Regions from separate parts of the Homo sapiens genome. Here region 2 is linked to region 1. The links come from fine-mapping of genetic effects on gene expression. A gene starts in region 1. The other region holds a variant in brackets. All regions are shown on one strand. Distances are between the middles of the regions. Region 1 holds the start of TMED3 (transmembrane p24 trafficking protein 3). Region 2 has its middle 23 kb from the start of TMED3.

The links. PIP is the estimated chance that this variant, and not a neighbour inherited with it, causes the effect.
Region 2: its variant is fine-mapped to the expression of TMED3 in whole blood (TOPMed, PIP above 0.99).

What each region holds. Positions count from the first base shown.
Region 1 is chr15:79,304,385-79,316,060 of GRCh38, reverse strand. TMED3 (transmembrane p24 trafficking protein 3) reads right to left here and starts at 4,949. Exons shown (of 3, transcript NM_007364.4): 1 at 4,644-4,949; 2 at 2,056-2,304. The coding sequence starts at 4,811. RefSeq lists silencers at 4,776-4,845, 5,056-5,105.
Region 2 is chr15:79,328,313-79,339,988 of GRCh38, reverse strand. It overlaps a transcript of TMED3 not described here. Among named protein-coding and RNA genes, the nearest start is that of TMED3, 23 kb to the right of the region's middle. RefSeq lists enhancers at 9,826-10,765, 10,059-11,258, 10,766-11,676. The variant A/G (reference allele first, on the strand shown) is at 6,601.

The DNA of each region.
Region 1 (11,676 bases):
GGCGAGAAGAATGAAAGTTACACTCCATAAATCTCACCTGTTCTCTTCACCTAGAAGGCCAAGCTTCTACATTTTCAAGTGAAGCCTTCCTGACTCCTGGAAGAATTCATCAGTGCCTCCTCAAGACTCCTGGCGCTTCAATTACAGCTCTGACCACAGTGCCCCATAGCCAACTGGCTTGCAGGGCTGCGCTCCTTGCAGGGTGCCCAGTACCAGGCACAGAGCCATCCACGGCTGGCACAATGTGTAGACTGAGTGAATTCTGGCATAAAAGCAAGTACTCTCAAAGGCAGGCACAGATGGTTCAAGGTGGCGGGGTAAGAGAAGTGGAAGGAAACGGCTCTTTTGAGGCTAAGCAGGAGCAAAGAAGAGGTTCTAAGATATAAGAAAAGGGAAGCATAAATCACTCTTTCCTGCAACAAAATCAAACTACTGCTCAGGCTCCAGGAAAGAATGTCTCTGTTGACCTAATTCTTTAAGGCTTTTCCTACCAATTTGTTTTCTACTGGTTAAGGGGGAAGTTCTTCAGCTCAGCTTTTGGAGACTTACAGAATCTTCCCAATAGAGGCTGTCTCAACAGTGGCCAACAGAACTCTCATGAGTATCGGTTGCAAAAGATCTTACACACAATACACACCCTCGGCTGGATCTTCTAACAGAAGTCATGTTGCCAAAAGCCCAAAGATCAAACCCAGTTTTGGACAATGGAACTTTCTATGCATGGCCACTAGCCACCTGTGACTATTGAGTACCTGGAGTATTGCTATGGTGCAGATGAGGAAGTGAATTTTTAATTTAATTTTAATTAATTTAAATAGCCAAATTTAGACACTGGCTACTGTACTGAACAGTGCAGCTCTAGCCTCCAACTGCTTAGGGAAGGTGGAAGACTGGGCAAATGAATCCACAGGCACTCGTGAGTGTGCCCAGAGCCACAGAGGAAGGATGCCACCTTGGAAGGCGGCCCAGAAGATCATCTGGCCTCCTTGAAAGTTCAAGACGCTGTGGCTTTGGTTCTGGCACACGTGCTGCTATCGATGGTTATTCCTGTCTTACAGGTTTCCCTGGGCCCTGACAGTCATTTCACAAGTATTTGGTGAGCTCCTTCCTGTGCCCTACCTTATGCACTGAAGCACTGAGGATACAAAAGTAAATCATTCAGGGTCCTAGCCCTCAGGAAGCCCCCAGCCTGCATATGAAAGGGAAGGAGGGGCTTAAATAGCAGAAGGGAAGACAGACGAAGGAGGATGGGATCAGAGAATAATGAACCTTGACAGCCATGGGCGACAGACATGACTATCCCCCCAAAATGTCACCGTTTCTCCTCCATAGTGTGGAGCTGTTGCTAAGGCTCTACTTGCCAGCCTTCCTTTCATCCAGCTTTGCCACATGACTAAGTTCTCACCCATGGGACATGAGCAGGTGATACGTATTCCCACTGGGCCTGGGCTTTTAAGAAGTAGATGGGCTTTTCTCATTCTCTCTTCCTTTGGCAGCTACAGGCAGAAGACCCTGAAGCCCTAAGGGAAGACAGAAAGATGACAAGAAAGAATGAGCCTGGATTCCTGAGTCACACCATGGAGGAAAGCTCCCCACCAACCTTTTCTAGATTATGCATGAGAATAAACTTCTATTCTGTTAAGCCATTGATGTTTGGTGTTTATTTTGTTACAGCACCTTGTGTTACCTTAACTAATACACCACACAAAGTAGGACTTTGGTCTTTATGATACAGGCACATCATATAAGCAGAGACACATGACACAGGTACTTCGAAAGTGGTACTGTGCAAAAGACTGAGTGGGAATGAAAGAGTAGAGACAGGAATGTCAGAGGAAAGTACTGCAGGGACCTGGTTAGAGAGTGGAAAGGAAGATCGAAAGAAGAGCATGGCATCCTTTAGGACTAGGTATGAAGAAAGAGACAAAACCAACCCTGAGACTTCCAGACTGGGAGCTGGATGGATGATGACTCCCACCACCAGCCTAGACAGAGGCCAATGAAGAGGAACACGCTAGGGGGTTCAGCAGCCCCGAACTGCTAATGTTCACTCACCTGGGTGAGAGCTGTGACCCTGTTCCCCATGTCTGGGAGAATGGGAGGCTCATCGCCCACTTGAAAGTCAAAGTAGACGGTCTTGTGAGAGAAGGTGGAAAACTCATTACTGAAGCAAAACTGATAAACGCCCTTGACTTCAGCCCGGTACGTGAAGCTGTCGTACTGCTTCTTCGTTTCTCTGTAGATGGTGTTCCCCTGGGGGTCCTCTACATAGCAGTCAACATCGTAGTGGCCTCCAGTGATGACCTGACAACCATAAAAAAATTGCTGTTATCAAAGGAGCAACCACCACTTACCAAATGCCAACCAGACACTGTGATCAGACTCTACAAACATTTCTGTCACTTCATCTTCAAAACTTTCTAAGGCAGGTGCTACGCCACTTCTCATTTTACTAAGGCTGAGCAAGGTTAAATAAATTGGCTGTGGTCACACTGCTTGAAAGTGAAAGGGCTAAGATTTGAATCTATGCCTGCCTGACTCCCAAGTTTGCTCTGCAGGGTTTCAATGAGCCTAATCCTTTCCATTTTACAGAAGAAGAAACTGAGGTTCCAAGGTTAAGTAAATTCCCTAAGGTTACACAAGAGAAAGTGGTGAGATGAGATCTGCCTTGAGAGCTTTTGGTTCCAGTGCCTAAACATTTACCTATTGCACTATTCTGAAGCATGAATGAACATACCCCAGGATAACTGCTCTTCCTGAGATGGTGCTGATAAAGCTTCCCGAAATCAAGAGCAAGATGAGGAGGGATGTCCAAGAAACTATTCCAATGCAACTAGATGCCACCGATTCTTTATCTTTGTTCAATACTTAACACAAGACACACAGCAAATCACTGATTTAGGGCACTGCCACTCATTAGCCATGTGACCCTAGACAAGTTACTTTATTCTCTGAGGATATGTCTTTATCCATGAAGTGAGGAGTCAATAAGTTATCACACCTAAAGTGTTTAGCACGGTGTCCAACATAAATTTAGCAAGGGCCCCAAAAGTGCCAGCCAATTACTGGACAATCGTCAGACTGCAAACTAACCCCCTGGGGTTGCAGTGGAGATGTGGGATCTGATTTGGGGGCCACCCTAGAGCATGCATGCTGCACCTCCTGCTTCTCCGTTCCAATAACAGACAGGTGTTCCCCCTCCCCCCACCAGCAAGGGTCATTCTTGGCTTGCTGAATGGGTCAAGTAGCTATTAACAATATATTATTAATGACTGAATGCAAGGAGAAGAAAAATATTGATCGAAGTATTCATGGAATTTCTGAGTGTCAGCGGTGGAAGAGTCTTTGGGAATCATTTAGTTCAAACTCTCCTTGTAACATAAGAAAAATAAGACCCACATAAAGCAAAATCTCACAGGTAGGCAATGGCTATAACCAAGATCCATCAAAGGACACGGTCAATGGCCTCCATCTGCTTCCAAATTTAAATGGCCTCTTTGTCCGGACAAAAGTTACTAGTCCTGCTCAGCAAGCTTTGCAAAAAGCAGTGAGTATCCTGTTGCTAAGTGTGTTTAAACCCAGGCTGGACACACTTTGACAAGGGATTTCCGCCCTGGCAGTGACCAGATGACATCTGAGGTCCCTGCAACCACAGAATTATCATTCTTTTTGTCATTGCACCTAGGTTGCCCATGTTAACCCAGTCACAATTTGCATGTTGTCCACAAAGACCTGAAAGTGGACAAATCAGTGACTGAGACTACCACATAGAAGTTGTCTCCAAGCGCAAGCTTCCTTCAGTGCCTCTAACCACAGAGGAACTGGTCAAATAGCTTGCCCCCATTCCTGCTGCCCGTGGCCCCTCATTTCTGAAGTGCCTATCAGCATGCGTCCACAAGCAGATAGCTGTCTGAGTATGATGCCCACTTGGCCCCCAACCCTAGACCTGCTCACTAAATATCGGGGCAGACTACTCACTCAAGACCTGCTCCTGTCACCTGTGGGCCACGGGATCTCTCAAAGGAGACAGGAATACAGGAACTGAGCTTTTCTAAGCCATATGGCAAGAGCCAAGTCTTGCAGCCACACCGCTCCTTGTAAACACCGCCAGGCCTCAATGGCTGCACTGATCCCTCCTTTCCAAAGTGCCCATTCTCACTTCTGCTGCCCTCACCTCACTCCAACTTTAAACGCTGGAGAGGGGAGGAATAAACTAAAACTATGAGCCCACTTCCTCTTGCTGCCATTTTTCAGTACTCGAAGGCACAAGGTGGTCTAAGAGACTGGGGTTAGAGAGCCTGTGTCCAGCCGATCAGAACTGCCGTTGGTTAGTGTCTCGGGGGCCTGCGGATATCTCTTTGGCCAGCTCCCCAGGCTGCGGGATCCGCCCTGGCGTCCCCATCCCGGGCTCGCACCTGCGGCGCTGACTACCTCCTCGCTGGCCAGGCTCGTCTCGGGTGGGCCCTGATGACCCAAACCTTCCTCCTCACGGGGAAGTCAACTGGTCTCCGGGGACTCCCACCCCATGCAGCCTCCCTGTAGCCTGTGGCTAATTCGAGCGCCTCCAGTCAGGGGCTAGCCAGTGTCCAGGTGAGACCTGGGAGTGGAGGGAGAAGGGAGCGCTGCCGGGCGCCCGGCCTCACCTGGTAATCCAGGGAGAACTTCACGCCCTGCTCCACCTCCTCGTGGAAGCACTGCTTGGCGTTGTCCGGCAGCTCGAAGGTGAGCTCGGCCCCGCAGGGCTGCTCGGCCCGGCGCAGGAGCAGCAGCAGAAGCAGCACGGAGGCGGAGCGCGGGACAGTGCTGCCCATGATGCTCTCGGTCCCGTCTCGAGGGCCGCGGCTCGGGCGCTGCGCCCCCGGCGGGCTGGGGCGACGACTACCGACCGGGTCCTAGGAGGATGTAAGGGGATAGACGTGGCACCAGCGGAGCTCTGCGCTTCCGGGAGGGCCGGCGGCTCAGTGCGCAGCCGCGCGCTCAAAGTGGGCCCGGGCACCTTCCGCCCGCTGCGCGTGCGCGCTGGCCGCGCTGCGCCAGGGGACACGCCCCCCCCACCCCCCCGCAACGCCTCTCCCGGCTCGGAGGGTGGGTCTCCGCGGAGGGGAGGTGGGGCTCCACCTAGCGCGCCCCTACCCAGAAGAGGGAGAAGCCCTCCCCGCTGTTCTGCGCGCTCCCGGACCCGCAGGGCTGAGCATCCCCCCAGGTCGACCCAGGTCCACCCTCCAGCTGCTGCAGCACGAAGCACGTGGGATTTTACTCCCTCTATAAGGCTCCGCTTTTGACAGGCTCTGTAACTTCAGTCTCACACTTCCCTCGAGAACCAGTCTCCTTGTCTTGAAATGGGTGTGCCCAAACCTAACATCCACAGTAGTTAGGGAGCTAGGTGAAAGATAAGGGAACGCTGGGAACCCGATTAACACTCCTTTCTTCATTCCCATACCCTTCCCAAGGTGAAAGAGTGTGCGAAGGGGGTGGGGAGTGGGGAGAGTAAGTAAAGACCCATCATTACACCTGCTCTGGGAAAAACACGAGCGTGCTCACACACAAACGATCTCATGAAAATCCAAGTAAAGTCTCGCAGCGACTTCAGGTATATTTTGGCTGTCAGGCTCGTTGAAAATTCTTTTTGCACAAAACTGTCATTTTTGCACTTTGACTTCTTAAAAGCTCTGAAAGCAGATAAATTGGTTTACTGTCTTACCCATGACCACTGACTTAAGATTCTTTTGTATAATCGTAACTATAGGTATAGTTTTATATTCACTGTGATCCAATAAACAAAGAGAAAAGACGTAGATTGTGATGTCGATACTCAATAAATAACTTATTCAGGAGAGCATTACTAGACGTGGTATATCTTGACTTCAGGAAAGAATGTTACTGCCCATATAGATTTCCGCTGGCCACATTCACTATGGATGAACACGCTAATGTGTGAAAGCAATCTGTAGGCTTGGAAATAACATGCATGCATAACATAGTTAATAATATTGACTGGCTCAGTGACAGGCATGGAAGAGGTGTTTAGTAGTGTCCCTTAAGCTTCCTTCCCTGGCACGGTCCTATTTCACGTTTTTTTTTTTTTTAGGAACTGATAGAAAACATGGAAGTAATAATCATCTGATCTAGATGAACTAAGTGGAGAAATAAATGACAGATATAAAACCACAATTGGCCGGGAGTGGTGGCTCACGCCTGTAATCCCAGCACTTTGGGAGGCTGAGGCGGGTGGATCACGAGGTCAAGAGATCGAGATCATCCTGGCCAATGTGGTGAAACCCCTTCTCGACTAAAAATACAAAAATTAGCTGGGGGTGGTGGTGCGTGCCTGTAGTCCCAGCTACTCGGGAGGCTGAGGCAGGGAGGCAGGGGTATTGCTTGAACCTGGGAGGTGGAGTTTGCAACCTGGCGACAGAGCAAGACTGCGTCTCAAAAAAACAAAACAAACAAACAAAAAAAAAACACGATTGCCCTGGCACAGGTGGAGTGCTCTGCTAAGACTAACAAAAAGAAATTTCGGGCTGGGCACCATAGCTCATGCCTGTATCCCAGTATTTGGGGAGGCTGAGGCAGGAGGATTGTTTGAAGCCAGGAGTTCGAATCTAGCCTGGGCAACATAGTGAAACCTCGTTTCTACAAAAACAAACAAACAAAAATTAACCAGGCATGGTGGTGTGGGTCTGTAGTCCCAGCTACTTGGGATGCTGAGGTGGGAGGATTGCTTGACACCAGGTGTCTGAGGCTACAGTGAACTGTGATTGCACTACTGCACTCCAGCATGGATGACAAAGGGAGACCCCATCTCTAAAAATCAAAATAAATTCCTCCGGATTAAATGTTAAGTCTTACATTTAAGTTCCAAGAAAACACCTGCATAAGTTCAGGGGAGGAGCTGACATTGAAGAAGCTCTAGTCAGAGCATGCAGGCTGTTGGCTGGGACACCTCGGTTCTCCTCCAAGCATCCTCTTACATCTAATAGGCTAGATTACTTCCTTATATGGCAGGTTCAGGGCAGCATCCCAAGAGGAACTAGGCAGAAGGAGCAAGGCCCCTGAGACCTAAGCTTCAGACCTTTTCCAGTATGACTTTCTCCACATTCTGTTGACCAAAGCAAGTTCAAAGGCCAGCCCAGATTCAAGGAGGTGGAAAAATGGAATCTACCTCTGGATTTGAGGAGTTGCAAAGTCACATTGCAAAGGAGGGTCATACTGGGATGGAAGGAATTATGGCTGTTAAGCCATCTTCTATAGTATCCAGACTCACTCAGCTTGTCAATGGCTAAGCCAGAAAGTGAACCCAGATCTGCTTAATTCTGAAGACTACCAGCTTCCCACTAAACACACTGCCTCTACCCATACCTCAGGGAACACTTGTCCTACATGTTCCATAGGGCAAACCTTGGACCAAAGCATGAATCTGACACTGAGGCACATTTCAGCTCACACAATAAATGATTTTCTGGAACCAGAGATTTCCAAAAATAGAATGGACAAGGATAGTACATTTTTCATACCCGAAAATATTCGAACAGATGCAGGTGAACAACCAACCACTTAGCAACAACAGAGATGATTCATGAGCCTGGGTGACAGATAATAGTGGTGTATGACCTCTACGGTTCCTTCCAACCTTGATATTGCATGATATATGGCAAATATTGCGTGATATATGGTACTAAAGGTAGGATAACTTGAAAGAAAAACCAAAAATGTTTTCTATCCACTTTAGTCCTGGGGTGACTTCTGTAAAGTCCTTTTAAAACAGTAAATAAAAGAAACACACACATAAAAATAGTAAATAATAAATATTAAAACAGTAAATAAAAATGAGGATCTTAACAGATGCAGGAAAAAAAGCATGTGACAAATTCAACATCCATTCATGATAAAAACTCTTAGCAAAACAGAAATAATAGACAACTTCCTTAATGTCATAAAATGTAACAAATTTAGAGCAGACATCATGATTAATGATAAACATGTCTTTTCCTTCAAATTTGGGAATAAGACATAAATGCCTGCTATCACAACTGCTATTTAACATTGTCCCAGAAATTCTAGCAGGAAAGGTTAGGCAAGAAAAAGAAATAAAAGGACAAGAATTGGATATATAAACATCCAAATAGTGCTTATATCTAAGGGGAAGGAAAATGCAGAAGTCCAGAAGGGGCACCCAAGAGAGACTCATGAATGTTCACATTCTGACTTTCATTAACTGAACACTTAGGTTTTACTTCTCTAAGTATGTACAGATGCTCCTCGGCTTACAATGGGGTTATGTCTGAATAAACCTATCATGAATTGAAAACATCGTAAGTTACGTGTGTTATGATGAGATGGGCAGTATAAGGTGGACCCATCTGTGCCCTAAAGCAGAACTTTATCATTGCTTCATGCAACAGGAGCACTCCCTAGCATGCTATTAGTATGTTGAAACAAAATCAAAGTTTATCCATGCCTCATGCAGGTAATTGATGGTGAAGGAAAAAAGCAACACAATCGCTGTGTGGATTGACTAAAGCAAATGGAAACTTTGCAAACCGCTTAACGTTGCCATGGAGCTATAACCAATACCAGCTTTTCCCTGAACAAACCAGTCAGAGACAGGTGACACACACTGCCCTCCTGAGACTCACAAACTTCCCCAGAACAACTGTTTCTGTGGCTGTCAAGCATTTAACTATCCTTCCTATGGGTAAATCCCAAACTAGGTGAGAAACCAGCCTCCCTCTCATCACAGAGCAAAAGAGGGGCAGATAGTCCCTCTCCCTCTGCTCCCGGGTCCCAAGGTATGTGGGCATGGGATCCAGGCTCTGCCAACTGGGTGCCCTTGTATCTGACTCGGGGGGGCGGGTGTCTAGAGAGGTAGAAGCAGAGAGTATAATGGTGGTTACCAGGGGCTAGGGGGTGGGGGGCTTGGGGAAATGGCCAATGATTACAAAATTTCAGTTAGATAAGAGGAATAAATTCAAGAGATCTATTGTACAACATGGCATCTATGGTTAATAATGTAGTCTATACTTGAAAATCACTGAGAGTACCTTTTAAGTGTTCTTGCCACAAAAAAAATGATATATGCAGTAATATATATGTTAATTACCTCAATGTAGCCTTTCTACAATGTATGCATATTTTAAAACATTATGTTGTATACTTCAAATATACATAATTTTTATGTGAATTAAACAAACAAATTTAAATTTGAAAAAGAAGAAGAATGCTTCAATCTTTAAGCTTTGGACAGGAAAATATTGTGACTAAATGACTACAGAATGATCTTTAAAAATTGAAAAGCTTTTTGCAATTCACACATTATGTTGGATTCATGGAAATGACTCATATTCTCCCTTGAGTGTGAGGTAAAGAAACATTAATATCTTAAATATAGGAAGAGAATAATCCATGTGCCCACTCACCATGCATGAATTATATTTTCCTAGTGCTAAAAATTCAAACTTCTTCTTACCCCATTGGGTCTTTGTTTCTATATAAATAAGTATAATTTATTCTGCTTTTAAAAAGAGAAAAAGAAAAAAACATCATATAACTTATTATCTTTGCTGTAACATGGTGGAATGGAAAGATAATGAAATTCAAGACCCAAAACCCTGGCATTAATGTTTTGACATTCTGTCCTTGTCTGGGAGTCCACGTCTGAAACTTTAAAATAGAGGTTGAGGTTGGGGATTGGGTGAGTTGATGCCAAAGGTTTTCTTCTTCCAATTATCAAGACTTTTAATAATTTCAAACAGTGAGCTTGGGCTTCTTTTCTTCAATTTAAAAGAAAAACATAAAGAAAATAAGAAAAATTAAGGGAGGAAGGGAAGAAGGGAGGGAGAAAGAATGGAAGGGAGGAAGGGAAGGCAAGGAAAGGAAGAGTAGCCTCATACAGTCTATGTATTAGTGAGGATAAGATATTCTGCAGTAAAAATCAACCCCCAGATTAAAGAGAGAGCTGTTTTCCTTTCTCTTTCTTTCTTTTTCTTTTCCCTATTAAACCTCCACTCCTAAACTCCTAAACTCCTAAAAAAAAAAAAATCAACCCCCAAATATCAGGACTCAGCAAAAGTTTATTTCTTATCCCTTCTATGTTTTTCACAGGTTCAAAGGCAGAGATCTCTTCCATGTAGTCCTTCAGGGAACCTGACTGACAGAGATCCCCATAATCTTGAAATTGTTTCACCTGAAACACACTTCTCCTCCGCCACAGCAACAGGGGAAGAGAATGTGAGAAGATCTCTTATCAGCAATTACATGCATCAGCTTAGAAGAGACACACACATTGCTTTCACTCGTAACCTATCATCTTGAATTGATCTCATGGCCCTACTAAATCCCAAGGTGAATGAGATTTGTCTTCCATGTGTCCAGAAGGAGAGGAAAACTGAATGGTGGTGAATACTGGTTCTGTTTGCCACATCACGGTAAAACGAGTAATAATAAAGACATAAAAAAGACTTGCAGTTTCTGGTAAAGACAAGTTAGATTATTTGAACATAAATTTCCCCTAAAAACAACTAAAAATACAACTTTAAAAATGTTTTCTGGGAGGCATCAAAAAGCTGGCAAGAGAGTAAAGAATTACCCCGCCAAAATTGAAGGGAAAACAATAATCTAGAAAGAGAAGCATTCTCAAAAGTTACTTTTCCCATGAGGGCATTGGCCAATCCTGAACATTTTTGAATTTTCATTTTTTACAGTCTCACAGGGAGAGTGGACAAAAACCAGAGCCTTAAGGAAGTTGAGGGCTCATCATTTCACTTTCCTGCTCAGAAACTGTTACCGTCACTTGCTACATTAAATTCAAACTCCTGCCTTCACAGAAACAGCACATCCTCTCTCATCCTGACCATTTCAACTCATCCCAACCATCATCTCTATTCTACAAGGTCCAGTCTCCATTTGGGCCCCACATGCTATGGCAACCATGGTCATCTCCAACTCCGTGGCTGTGCTTGTGTTATTTATATGTCCAGAAGGATCTGCCAGATCCATTTGGGAACCCCATCCCACTCACACTCTCTACAAAACCTCTCTCTCCTAGAGCCTATGATGCCCTCCCCTCTACCTTTATATAATCATTCTTTGATTCTTCCTACTGTTTCAGGGGAATTCCTTATGGTACTTTGGTAAAAATTGAGGCTTGACATACAATACCTTGCATATATTTAAAGTGTACAATTACGTAAGTTTTCACATACACCTGTGCAGCCATCATCTCAAGCATGAAATAAACAAATCTATTTCCCACTAAGGCTTTCTCGTTCTTTTGTAATTCCTTCTTCTGTTGCTCCGCATCCTTGTCCTCTGTTCCTGAAACCATTGATCAGCTTTCTATCACTATACAATAGTTAGCATGTTCTAGAATTCTGCATAAATGGAATCATAAAATAGCACTTTTTTAGTATGACTCTTTAATCTTTGCCTAGTTATTTTAAGATTCATCCATGTTGTAGCAGATGCCAAAATTCATTCCTTTTTATTGCTGAGTAAAATTCCATTGTCCATATATGTATGAGTTTACTTCTGGTCTCTCTAATCTATCCATTGATCTGTTTGTCTATCTTTATGTCAATACCATACTGTCTTGATTACTGTAGCTTTATAATAAATGTTGAAATCATGTAGAGCTAGTCCTCCAACTTCATTCTTTTTTAAAGCTGTAGTGGCTATTGT
Region 2 (11,676 bases), 24 kb before region 1:
TAGTGTGTGTGTGGTGTGGCTCAGAGCTAGATCAGAGGTCTAACACTGCTCTCTACACACATCATCTCCACCACCATCACCATCCTAATCACCACCATCACCACCATCACCACTACCATCATCACCACCATCATCCTAATCACCACCATCATCACCACCATCACCACTACCATCACATTCACACCATCACCACCACCACTGCCATCACCACCATCAACACCACCATAATCACCACTATCACCATCATGTCATCACCACCACCATAACACCATTGCCACCACCATTACTACCATCACCACCATCATCACCATCACTACCACTCCTCTGTCATCACCACCCGCTAGCAGCTGCACTGCCGCCACCATCACTGCCACCCTCATCATGACCACTACCATGATCACTGCCAACACCACCCCAAATTTGGAGCTATCCGACACTGTGGACTTTTGCAATGGAAGTTAATAGAATCAACAGCAAATGAAACAGATTAGCTTAAAATTTAATATTTGTACAGTGTAGGGACCAGCCCCACAGGGTCGGTGGGTCTCTCCCCGTGTGCGGAGATGAGAGAGTGTAGAAATAAAGACACAAGACAAAGACATAAAAGAAAAGACACCTGGGCCCGGGGGACCACTACCACTAAGTTGCAGAGACCGGTAGAGGCCCCGAATGCCAGGCTGCACTGATATTTATTGGATACAAGACAAAGGGGCAGGATAAGGAGAGTGAGCCATCTCCAATGATAGGTAAGGCCATGTGGGTCACGTGTCCACTGGACAGGGGGCCCTTCCCTGCCTGGCAGCTGAGGCAGAGAGAGAGAGAGGAGACAAAGAGAGAAACAACTTACACCATTATTAGAGACTTTTAGTACTTTCACTAATTTGTTACTGCTATCTAGAAGGCAGAGCCAGGAGTACAGGATGGAACATGAAGGCAGACTAGGAGCATGACCACTGAAGCACAGCATCACAGGGAGACAGGCCCCTGGATAACTGCGGGTGAGCCTGACTAATGTCAGGCCCTCTACAAGAGGTGGAGGAGTACAGTCTTCTCTAAATTCCCCGGGGAAAGGGAGACTCCCTTTCCCGGTCTGCTTAGTAGTGGGTGTTTTTCCTTGACACTTACGCTACCGCTAGACCACGGTCCGCCTGGCAACGGGTGTCTTCCCAGATGCTGGCATTACCGTTAGACCAAGGAGCCCTCTGGTGGCCCTGTCTGGGCATAACAGAAGGCTCGCACTCTGTCTTCTGGTCACTCCTCACTATGTCCCCTCAGCTCTTATCTCTGTATGGCCTGGTTTTTCCTAGGTTATGATTATAGAGCAAGGATTATTATAATATTGGAATAAAGAGTAATTGCTACCAACTAATGATTAATGATATTCATATATAATCATATCTAAGATCTATATCTGGTATAACTATTCTTATTTTATATTTTACTATACAGGAACAGCTCGTGTCCTCGGTCTCTTGCCTCGGCACCTGGGTGGCTTGCCGCCCACAGTACAGAGCTTTTAATTTTACAAGGAACTTTCACAAATATTTTATTATTGAAACCTTGCAATAGCCCTAAGAGGTGAAGCCAGGGCAATTACCATCCTTCTATTTACTTTGCCTTTGAGATGTTTAATGCAGAAAATACTAATGGTAACATAACAAACACCCACATATCTGCCACTCAGGACTAACAAATGCTAATATTTTGTTATACATTCTTCAGATTTTTTAAAGAAAAAAATACTGCACAGATAAAATGGAAATCTCCTTTGTACCCCATCCCAATTTCTATCTTCAATTCCCAGAGGTAAACTTTTCTTTACAATCTGTGTTTTTATAATTTTACTATATATTATACATGAACACATTTATTTTTCCCATGAGCTATACAGAATAGTGTTTAATGTGTGTTTTTACTGATATATAAGTGATACCACATTGGATGGTTTTCCTTTTTCACTGTACACTCTGGTGTGTCTTCAATATTATTTCATGTTGCTTTATTGGGAGCTATTTTATTCATTTCCAACTGTTATAAAGTATCCCCATATACAAGCATGCAACGTTTTGTTTATTCATTCCCATCCATGTGCATTTGAGTTATATTGTAATGTTTTATCACCAAACACAATGCTGCAGTGAATATCATTGTACATTTCCCTTAATACCACATTTTGTTACAAACGAGGAAACTGAGGGTCAGAGGGGAGAGACCATGTGGTCTGCTCATCCTCACACAGCTCCCAGGAGCAGAGTCAGGATTTGATCACTACCGAACTGTTCCATACTCCAGGAATCTTCTGTGCACGTTCCTGCTGATGCGAGTGTGTGATCGATATCTTATAAAAGAGATCAGGAAAAAGGGAAGTAATTCAAGCTACGAAATGCACCTAGTCTTGACAAAATAGTGGTTCTAGTAGAATATAATTTAATTTTTTAAAAGCAGCATAGGTTGAAAGACTTGGATGGAATTTATCTAACACTGTCTGTTATTGGCTGAACTGTGTCCTCCCCTTTCTCCCAAATTATTCTATTTTTGTTTTTTGTTTTTCCCCCAAATTCTTATGTTGAATTCTGAACCCACAGTGTCTCAGAATGTTACTATATTTGGAGATAAGGCTTAAAGAAGTAATTAAATTAACTACAGTGAGCCCTAACCCAACATAACTGTTGTCCTTATATAAAGGGGAAATTAGGACACAGACATGCACAGGGAAGGGACCGTGTGAGGACACAGAAGACAGCCATCTGCAAGCCAAGGAGAGAGGTCTCAGGAGAAACCAACCCTGTTGACACCTTGATCTCTGACTTCCTGCCTCCAGAACGGTGAGAAAATTAATTTCTGTTCTAAGCCACCCAGACTGTTGGACACTTTGTTATGGCAGCCCCAGCGGACTATGACACTTTGCAACTGATAGCAGCTAAAGCAGATAGATCCAATAGATTCTGGTCAGTTCACATACAGGCTTGGTAGTAGTGAGGCCTGTTCCACCAGGGTCCACCACAGCCCAGAGCTTTCAAGCCCCTTGCTCTGGTGACAGATGCACAAAGCATTTGTTGTCTGTTATTATTATAACTACTTTGACACTTGGAAGTTGTGACATGGTAAGTGTCCTGAGTGTTTCATGTACTGGAAATATCTATGTCCCTCTATTTTATAAGTCAATCGATCAACTCTAGTGGGTGTAGTGGGTGGAGTTTGCTGGGTTGGATCCACCTAGAGTAAAAATATTAGCTAGGGTGCTAATGTGTTTTTTTCTTTGTTTGTTTTTTGTGTTTGTTTGTTTGTTTGTTTGTTTTGAGACAGAGTCTTGCTCTGTCTCCCAGGCTGGAGTACAGTGGTGTGATCTTGGCTCACTGCAACCTCTGCTCACTGCAACCTCTGCTCACTGCAACCTCCATCTCCTGGGTTCAAGTCATTCTCCGGCCTCAGCCTCCCAAGTAGCTGGGACTACAAGCACCTGCCACCACACCTGGCTGATTTTTGTATTTTTAGTAGAGGCAGGGTTTCACCATGTTGGCCAGGCTGGTCTCGAACTGCTGACCTCAAATGATCCACCCACCTCGGCCTCCCAAAGTGCTGGGATTACAGGCATGAGCCACTGTGCCCAGCCCTAATGTAGTTTGTTTTTGGCTCTATCAAGACACCCCCAGATCCAGCTCCACTAGCCAGCCAGTGGGGGCCTAGCTTTTTGATGTTTTAATATCTGCCTGCCAGAGCCACAGAGGTTCAGAGAGGGGAAGATTTACAACCTCATGTATAAGAAATGCCCCACCTCCGTGGCACCAGAATAAGAAAGGAGTGAATCTGTAGCTCCAGACTCCACAGCCACACTTCAGCTGCCACCCTTATCCCTGACCAATTATTCCTTTATCAAAATTTTTCATCAGGAATGGCTTGTATTGATCTTACAAACTTAGTTTTCAGGGCCTCTTGAGATGACCAAATGGCTTTCCTTATTTTCCTTACTAGCTGCATAGCCTTGGGAAAAGATTAAATTCTCTGTGTCTCAGTTTCCTCATCTGTAAGATGGGAGTATTAATGGTTCCTATGCTGCTGAGCTGTTGTGAGAGATTAATGAAATGCCACACAAAAAAGCACTAAGAACTGTGGTTGGTGCCTAGCAAGAACTCAATGTAATTTCTTTTGTAGTCATTAATGTTCTATCAGGAAAAGTTAGAAAGCTAGCGTTTACATTTTCTCTTACCTTCCCTCACCTCCTAATTCTCAATTTCAATTTGCTGTATTGCAATTTTTAAATAATTAGACTTCATAACATTTATAGTCCCTAGATTGTTCATAGTTGTCTAGCCTCAGCTGTATATTTTAATGGATGAAATGCTTGAAAACCTGCCCTTTTTGTGATGGCCCCTTTCCTTTCCTTACTCAGTAGAGTTTTTCCTGGGGTAGCTGATTCAAGAGTGGTTCAAAGGTGCTCTGTGCCCTGAATTCCTTCTAGTTTTAGAAAGGCCACCTGTGGCCTTTGTAACTGAATGACAAATTAGCAGTGTATCATTTCCCTGGGTCCACACTGTCTCTCCCAGAGTTCCCTGAGGACAGTATTCCAGGGTCTTATCCCAGTAAATGTCAAGAAATAGTTTGGGGTCACATGATTTCTCCCTCTGACAGGTTACTTGCTTTTTTGTCTTTGTTGTTTGTTTGTTTGATGAAACTTCAATGTTGTTTGTTTATTTTTCCCAGAAGCCCAGGAATATCACCAGAATCTGTCTGTGTTAATCATTTTGCTTTATTTTTTCCTGAAACGCAAGGTACCTTTTTAAACTGAGGATTTAGGTCTTCCTTGACTTTTATTAAGGCTTTCTTTTTTTACGTCTTTGAAATTGTTCTGTTTTCTTCTTCAGGAACACCAATTACCTGCATGATGGATATCCTTGTTGTACAAAGCTGTCTGGCTCTCCCTAATAACTTTCAGCTTTTTGTTCTTTTTGTTTTCCATTTGTTTTTCAGACAGTCTTCTCAAGCCTTTCTTTAGTGTCCCTCCCTTGATTTCAGCAGTGCAGTGCCTGTTCTCATTTTGGCATCTTAAAGTTAACTATCATTTCTGAAATGATGTTTCCTCTTCCACATATTCCCTGAGACTGGACAGCTCCTTTTCATCTCTTTTGTTGTATTATAACCCCTTCTACAATTTCTTGTAACCTTCTCTGAAGTCTTGTTGCCTTTTTTAATTTTTTTCCTTTTTCTAAGACTATGAGGGAAAAAATGTGTGCACTGTTTGACTTCCTGGAGTAATTCTTCCGAAATACATTTCCTGCGTGCCTTCTATTTGTTACTTTGCCGTGATCCTGGTCTTGAATTGTCACTTTTCCTTTTGTGATCCAGGTCACTGATTTGCTGAAGAGTCACACTGTGTGGGGAGAAGTTGAGGCAGAAGCAAGCTGCGAGTCAGAGGTGCCTTCTCCACATCCTTTCTCATCAGTTCTCCTGAGATTTGGGGCTATAAAGCTCCCCCCGACCCTTCCTTCACCTGCCACATCTCCTGCACACCTGCCTGAAAAGCTTCTCCTCTGACCCCACCTGCCCTGCCACTCTGAAATGAGGAAAAGAGAAGGGGTCACCCCTGCTGCTCACACATGGCCCCTAGATGCTGCCATTCCAAGCTCCACCATTTGGCCATTCAGGACCAAAACCTTCTTCTTTTAGGAAAGTCTTAACCCTCTAGGACTGTTCTAGTCCTCTCCTTCCCTTTAGTTCAAATATCACTGCATTTGACAGCCACTCTTCATAGCTAGTGATTTTTGACTATGGCTCTTTCCTGGTTTCAGTAATTTAAATTCTATTTTACTCTTATTTGCTTGGGTTGATTTTAAGGAACTGGATGTCGGGGGAAGACAGGGATCTTCCTTTTTACTTCAGAAGCCCAAGATAATTAGTTTAGAACAGTTACTCTTAAGCTATTAGTTCTATTAATTTGCTATTAGCTAATAGCAAATTAAGTTCTACTAATTTGCTATGGTCTGTGAGGCTACTCTGGATTTGTGATAATCTTATCAAACCACAAATGCTTAGGAGGATATGTTTTCCCCAATTTCTTAGAGCTGAGGTGAGTGCATATATATTAATAAAGTTGGTTTTGATTCAAACCATGTTTGAAGGAGAATCTACCTGAGTACAGCCCTGTTTTACTTAGTTTGAAATATTATATTGTCATTTGAGGACTCTTTCCTACTAATTCTAATTCTCACAGTAGCTTTAAACAAAGGGTGTGGGGGCCTCAGCCACCAGGAGTCTATATTGAAAAAAGGTAGCCAAGCCATTACTGTTTCCTGTGCACTACTGAAAGCTGAAAATAGCCCAACAAAACATGTGAAAGTCTTATCAAGTTCTTGAACGATTTCTCCAGGATGTGATCAAAAGTGTAAAAGTAGTTACTGGTGCAGAAGCCATATCTGAAGACTATTTCTTCCTATGGTCAAATATTGAACTGAAAAACACAAACCTGCAGAAGGAAAATAGCCTTAAACTATGTTAGCATCTCCAGAATTATAATGGCTCAGTAGTTTTGAGGGCATACAAACGCTTATGTCTAGCGTTATATTAGGAAAAAGACAGTTGCTTTCTACATAACCTAAAAGTTCC[A/G]GTTTGCAGTTTGGTGGTGAGCAGGGAGGAGTTAACAACATTCTAGTCTGTCACTGCCACCAGAGCTGGAAAAACAGGTTCTCCCCAAACTTGCTCCATATCCTGTCATTCAACTGTGTTAGATTTTGCTTGCCTATGAGTTTGACCAAGAATGTTCTATCAGCATTCTTACAATTTTGCTTAAATAAATGTCACAGGGGAATGGTCTCCCCAGTAGACCTGTACCAGGTAAAGTCCTAGCACAGATGCACTCCGACTTTTGGTTCTTTGGAGATGAATGTCCTAGAATACACAGAGTTTAAAGACTGTCCCACTGCAAGCAGGCAGTCAGAATGGAGTGCAAGAGAAGGATTTATGCAAATGTCAAAGCACAGAGGAAGCAAACCAGGCGAGATGGAACACTGGGCAGTCAGGGGCCATTCATTCCTGCACAGACTGGGAATAAAGTGGCCACAGGCTTCACCTCAGCTATGTTTTTCCCTAAGGCTGGAGAGGAGGTGAGCCTGAAAGTTTGGAAATGACGAAGTTAAATTGCTAGACTCCATGTCCCACATCATACAATATGGAAGCCCAGAATACATCATAAACACTAGATCAGATGACTTTTGTTCAGAATGTCACCCAGCTGTGCTCCAGGAGGGAGATATTAATCCATGGGAAATCACAACCAGGTAGGTCCGTGGGCCTGGAAGGAGGCCACCATGAGACACTTACAGCTGAATGATAAGCGAGAATGGGCCTGCCGGTTTTACCTTGTCTGGAAAGCAGCCCGCCTTGCCCCAGCATACTGGCCAAGCCTCTCAGAAGGCAACATCTTCCTGATGGCAATAAACTATGGGACTATTGCTGGAGGGTTGCCCTTAAGAGAAAAACCAAGTCTTTAACATGTCTTAGTGGGAGGAAGATTCTGGTAAAATAATAGCTTGAATGTGCCCCAATTGCCCTCTACTCCCACTTTTAACTCATCCACCTCACCAGGCTGAAGAGTTTCGCATTGGCCAGATGGCCTGTGTGAGCGAGGCATCACCACATCTGAGAGTTTTGAAGCAGCTGTACAGGATTGTCTCCCTTGGAGCCTGATGGGCAATCCTGTCTGCTGCTCTCAATTAATACAGTTATTAATTCTATCCATTGATGATGGCGGTATCTACCTGCTCTATCATTCCCTCCATTGGTTCCTTTAACATCAGTATGTAATCTTCCTGTTCAGTACGATAGTTTGCCTTGAATTCTATTTTGTCAGATGCTACGGCTATTGCCTCACTTTTCATTTGGTTATTTCCCTGGAAAGTCTTTTTCATCCTTTTCTTTCTTATTTATGTATTTATTTATTTTTGAGACAAGGTCTTGCTTTCTTACCCAGGCTGGAGTGCAGTGGTACAATCATAGCACACAGCAGCCTCCGTCTCCCAGGTTCAAGCAATCCTCCCACCTCAGCTTCCACAGTGTATAAGAGTTCCCTTTTCTCTGCATCCTCACCAGTATTTGTTATTTTTTGTCTTTTTCAAAATAGCCATCCTAACTGGGGTGAGATGATACCTTGTTGTGGTTTTGATTTGCATTTCTCTGATAATTAGTGATGTTGAGCATATTTTCATATATTTTGTCGGCCATTTATATGTCTTCTTTTGAGAAATATTCATTCAGATTGTTTGTCCATTGTTTAATTGGATTTATTTTTTATCTTTGATATGTTTGAGTTCCTTGTACAGTCTGGATATTAATCCTTTATCTGATGAATACTTCGAAAATATTTTCTCCTGTTCTTCAGATTGTCTCTTCACTCTGTGTCTTTTGCTGTGTAGACTTTTTAGTTTGATATTATCCTTTTTTTTTTTTTTTTTTTGCTTCTTTTGCCTGTTCTTTTGAGGTCTTATTTATAAAATCATTTCCCAGACCAATGTCCTGAAGTGTTTTTCCTTTGTTTTCTTCTAATAGTTTTAACATTTGGGGTCTTACATTTAGGTCTTTGATCATTTTGAGTGGATTTTTGTGTTGGGTGAAAGATAAGGGTCTACTTTCATTCTTCTGCATGTGGATTTTCAGTTTTTTCAGCACCATTTATTGAAAAGACTGTCCTCCCAATGAAGGTTCTCAGCATTTTTGTCAAAAATCAGTTCACTGTGTTATGGTTTGGGTTTATGTCCCCACCAAATCTCATGTCAAACTGTAATCCCCAATGTTGGAGGTGGGGCCTGCTGGGAAGTGATTAGATCATGGGGGCAGATTTATCATGAATGGTTTAGCACCTCTTGGTGCTGTCCTCACAATCTGGTTGTTTAAAAGTGTGTGGCACCTCCCCTCTTGGTCTCATACTCCTGCTTTCACCATGTGAAGTGTTGGCTTCATGAGTAAAAGCTCCCTTAGGCCTCCCCAGAAACAGATGCTACTATGCTTCCTGTACAGCCTGCAGAACTGTGAGCCAATTAAACCTTTTTTCTTATGAATTACCAAGTATTGGGTATTTATTTGTATCAATGTGAGAATGTACTAATATAGCTATAGATATGTAGATTAATTTCTGGGCTTTCTATTCTGTTCTCTTGATCTATGTGTCTGTTTTTATGCCAGTACCATGCTGTTTTGGTTACTACAGCTTTGCAGTATACTTTGAGGTCTGGAAGTGTGATACCTCCAGGCTTTGTTCCTTTTGCTCAGGATTGTGTTGGCTATTTGGGGTCTTTTATGGTTCCATATAAATTTTAGGATTTTAAAAATATTTCTGAGAAAAATATAATGAGTATTTTGATGGGGATTGCCTTTAATCCACAGATTGCTTTGGGTAGTATGGTCCTTTTAACAATATTAATTTTTTGATCCATGAGCATGGGAATTTTTTCCAATTACTGTATCGTCTTCAATTTCTTTCATCAGTGATTTGCAGTTTTCCTTGTAGAGATTTTTCACATCCTTGGTTAAATTTATACCTAGGTATTTTATTTATTTTATAGATATTATAAATGGGATTGCCTTCTTGACTTCTTTTTCAGCTAGGTTGTAGTTTGTATATATAAATGTTACTGTGTTTTGTATGTTGATTTTGCATCCCGCAACTTTACTGAATTTGTCAATTTTAATAGTTTTCTGGTGGAGTCTTTAGGTTTTGCTAGGAATAAGACCATGTCATTTACAAACAAGGACAATTTGAATTGCTCCTTGAATGACCTTTATTTCTTTATCTTACCTAATTGCTCTGGCTAGGACTTCCAGTACTATGTTGAATAAGAGTGGTTAAGAGTGGGCATCCTTGTCCTGTTCCAGTTCTTAGAGAAAAAGCGTTCAGCTTTTCACTGTTCAATATGATGTTAGTTAAACCTTAGCTGTTTAGTCATTGCCTTTCTTGGGGTGTGGTGAGGCGAGGAGGTGGGGAATGACCACCGGGCATCTCTAAATAGCCATCCTGTTGCTGTCATTTTTAACATTCTACTTTTATATTTTTCATATATAGCATTTCTACTTGGTTCTTTTTATGACTTCTTGTTACAGCAAAATATTATTAAAATATTCTCTTGTAGAGTATATTTATCATGCTGCTTAAAAAAATTGTGGTCCACATGTGTCACACCAAGTGTCAGGTTCCAGCCCATGCTGAGGTCCAAGGGGAGTGGGTGGATGGGTGGCGGACAGCAGGAAGAACATTCGGGGGCTGTAGACAGGTGAAATATGGTTTTATTCAGCAGCTCTCTCATGCTGTCTGCTTTTATCTCCGCTACCTGCTCCGGCTCTGAGGCTCCTGCGGCTCCTGTGGCTCCCACACTTACAGCTGCATTCCCTGGCCTGCCAGGCCACCTCTGCCTTACAGGGTCAACAGCTTCACACTCTCTCCCTCTCTGGGCACAAGCTGTATGTGCAATGTCAGCAGGGCAGTTATACCTTTTACAAACAATAGTGGCTCTGAGCCAAGTACAAGCTTACACAAACAGGCTATTTAACAAGTGGAGTTATGCGCCTGTGTGCTAAACTTGCTGAGTCACTCTGGCCAGGATGTCTGCCTCTGCCTATTCCTGACCAAAGCACATCCATTTACCTTACAACATGTTCCAGTGATTCTGGTATAACGATATTTTGTATCCATTTGTTGTATCCCCTGCAGTCTAGCTGTTTGGGGCTGTGAGTCATGCTCCCATGAGGTCTGGTGATGTGTATTGAGAAGGGCTAAAGGCCAGGCCCTGGTTGTTGTCTCTTTAGAGAGTTTAAGGGAAGGAAGGGAACCCCTGGACAGAGAAAATCACAGAAGAAAATCCCCATTTGCTAATACTTGACAACTTCATTCAAAGTTCACTTTAAACTCTCAGAAACAACCACTTTGGAATAAAATGGTGGCCTTAGTTTTTAATCCACCACCCCTAGGTATTAAAAAGGGGAGGACAAGGAGGACTGGATTCCACCCAGACAGGGGCTTTGATCTACCTGCTATTGTCCCATAGGGCCAACAGCAACCTGGGCTGTGCCACTGAATTCATGGCAAAGGGGTCGGCTGTGGGTGCCTTAAGGCAACACATGGGAGAGGCAGGCACAGAATGGAAATGTTTTTCCTCCAACTTTGCTTCTCAGTGCTCTCCAGGGGCCTCTGCCCCCAGGCTACAGTGTCCTCCCACCCCTCTCCACAGACCCCTCTTCCAGTTTCTCACAGCTGTGTGTGTGAGAGAGTTCCTCAGATGCAGGCTTCTCTCTTGCTTCTGTGGTTTCTCCAGGCTTGATGTGGAGGATGGTCACCTTGCCAGGTCACTACCTGAAGGTGACATGGGGTCTTTGTAACTTATCCTTGCCCCCAACCCCATCCAACACATACACTTACTCCACTGTTCTGCAGCTTCCAGATGTCTGTCCACCAGGTGCAATGCAAACCCAGCCCATTTTGGGGGGCTGGCTGTGAGCATGGCTAAACCAAAGGTCGCGTCCCAGGTGCAGCCCACACAGGCTTTAGACCTGCTTAAGGCCCAGTTTTTTTGCATAGAAGTCAGGGGAATAGATAAATTTTAGTTAATATTTTAATTGCCTGAAAGATTACTTTATAAATTAAAGGAAAATGGGGTTTTTAATTTTTTTTTACAATTAAAAATGCAACTCAAATAT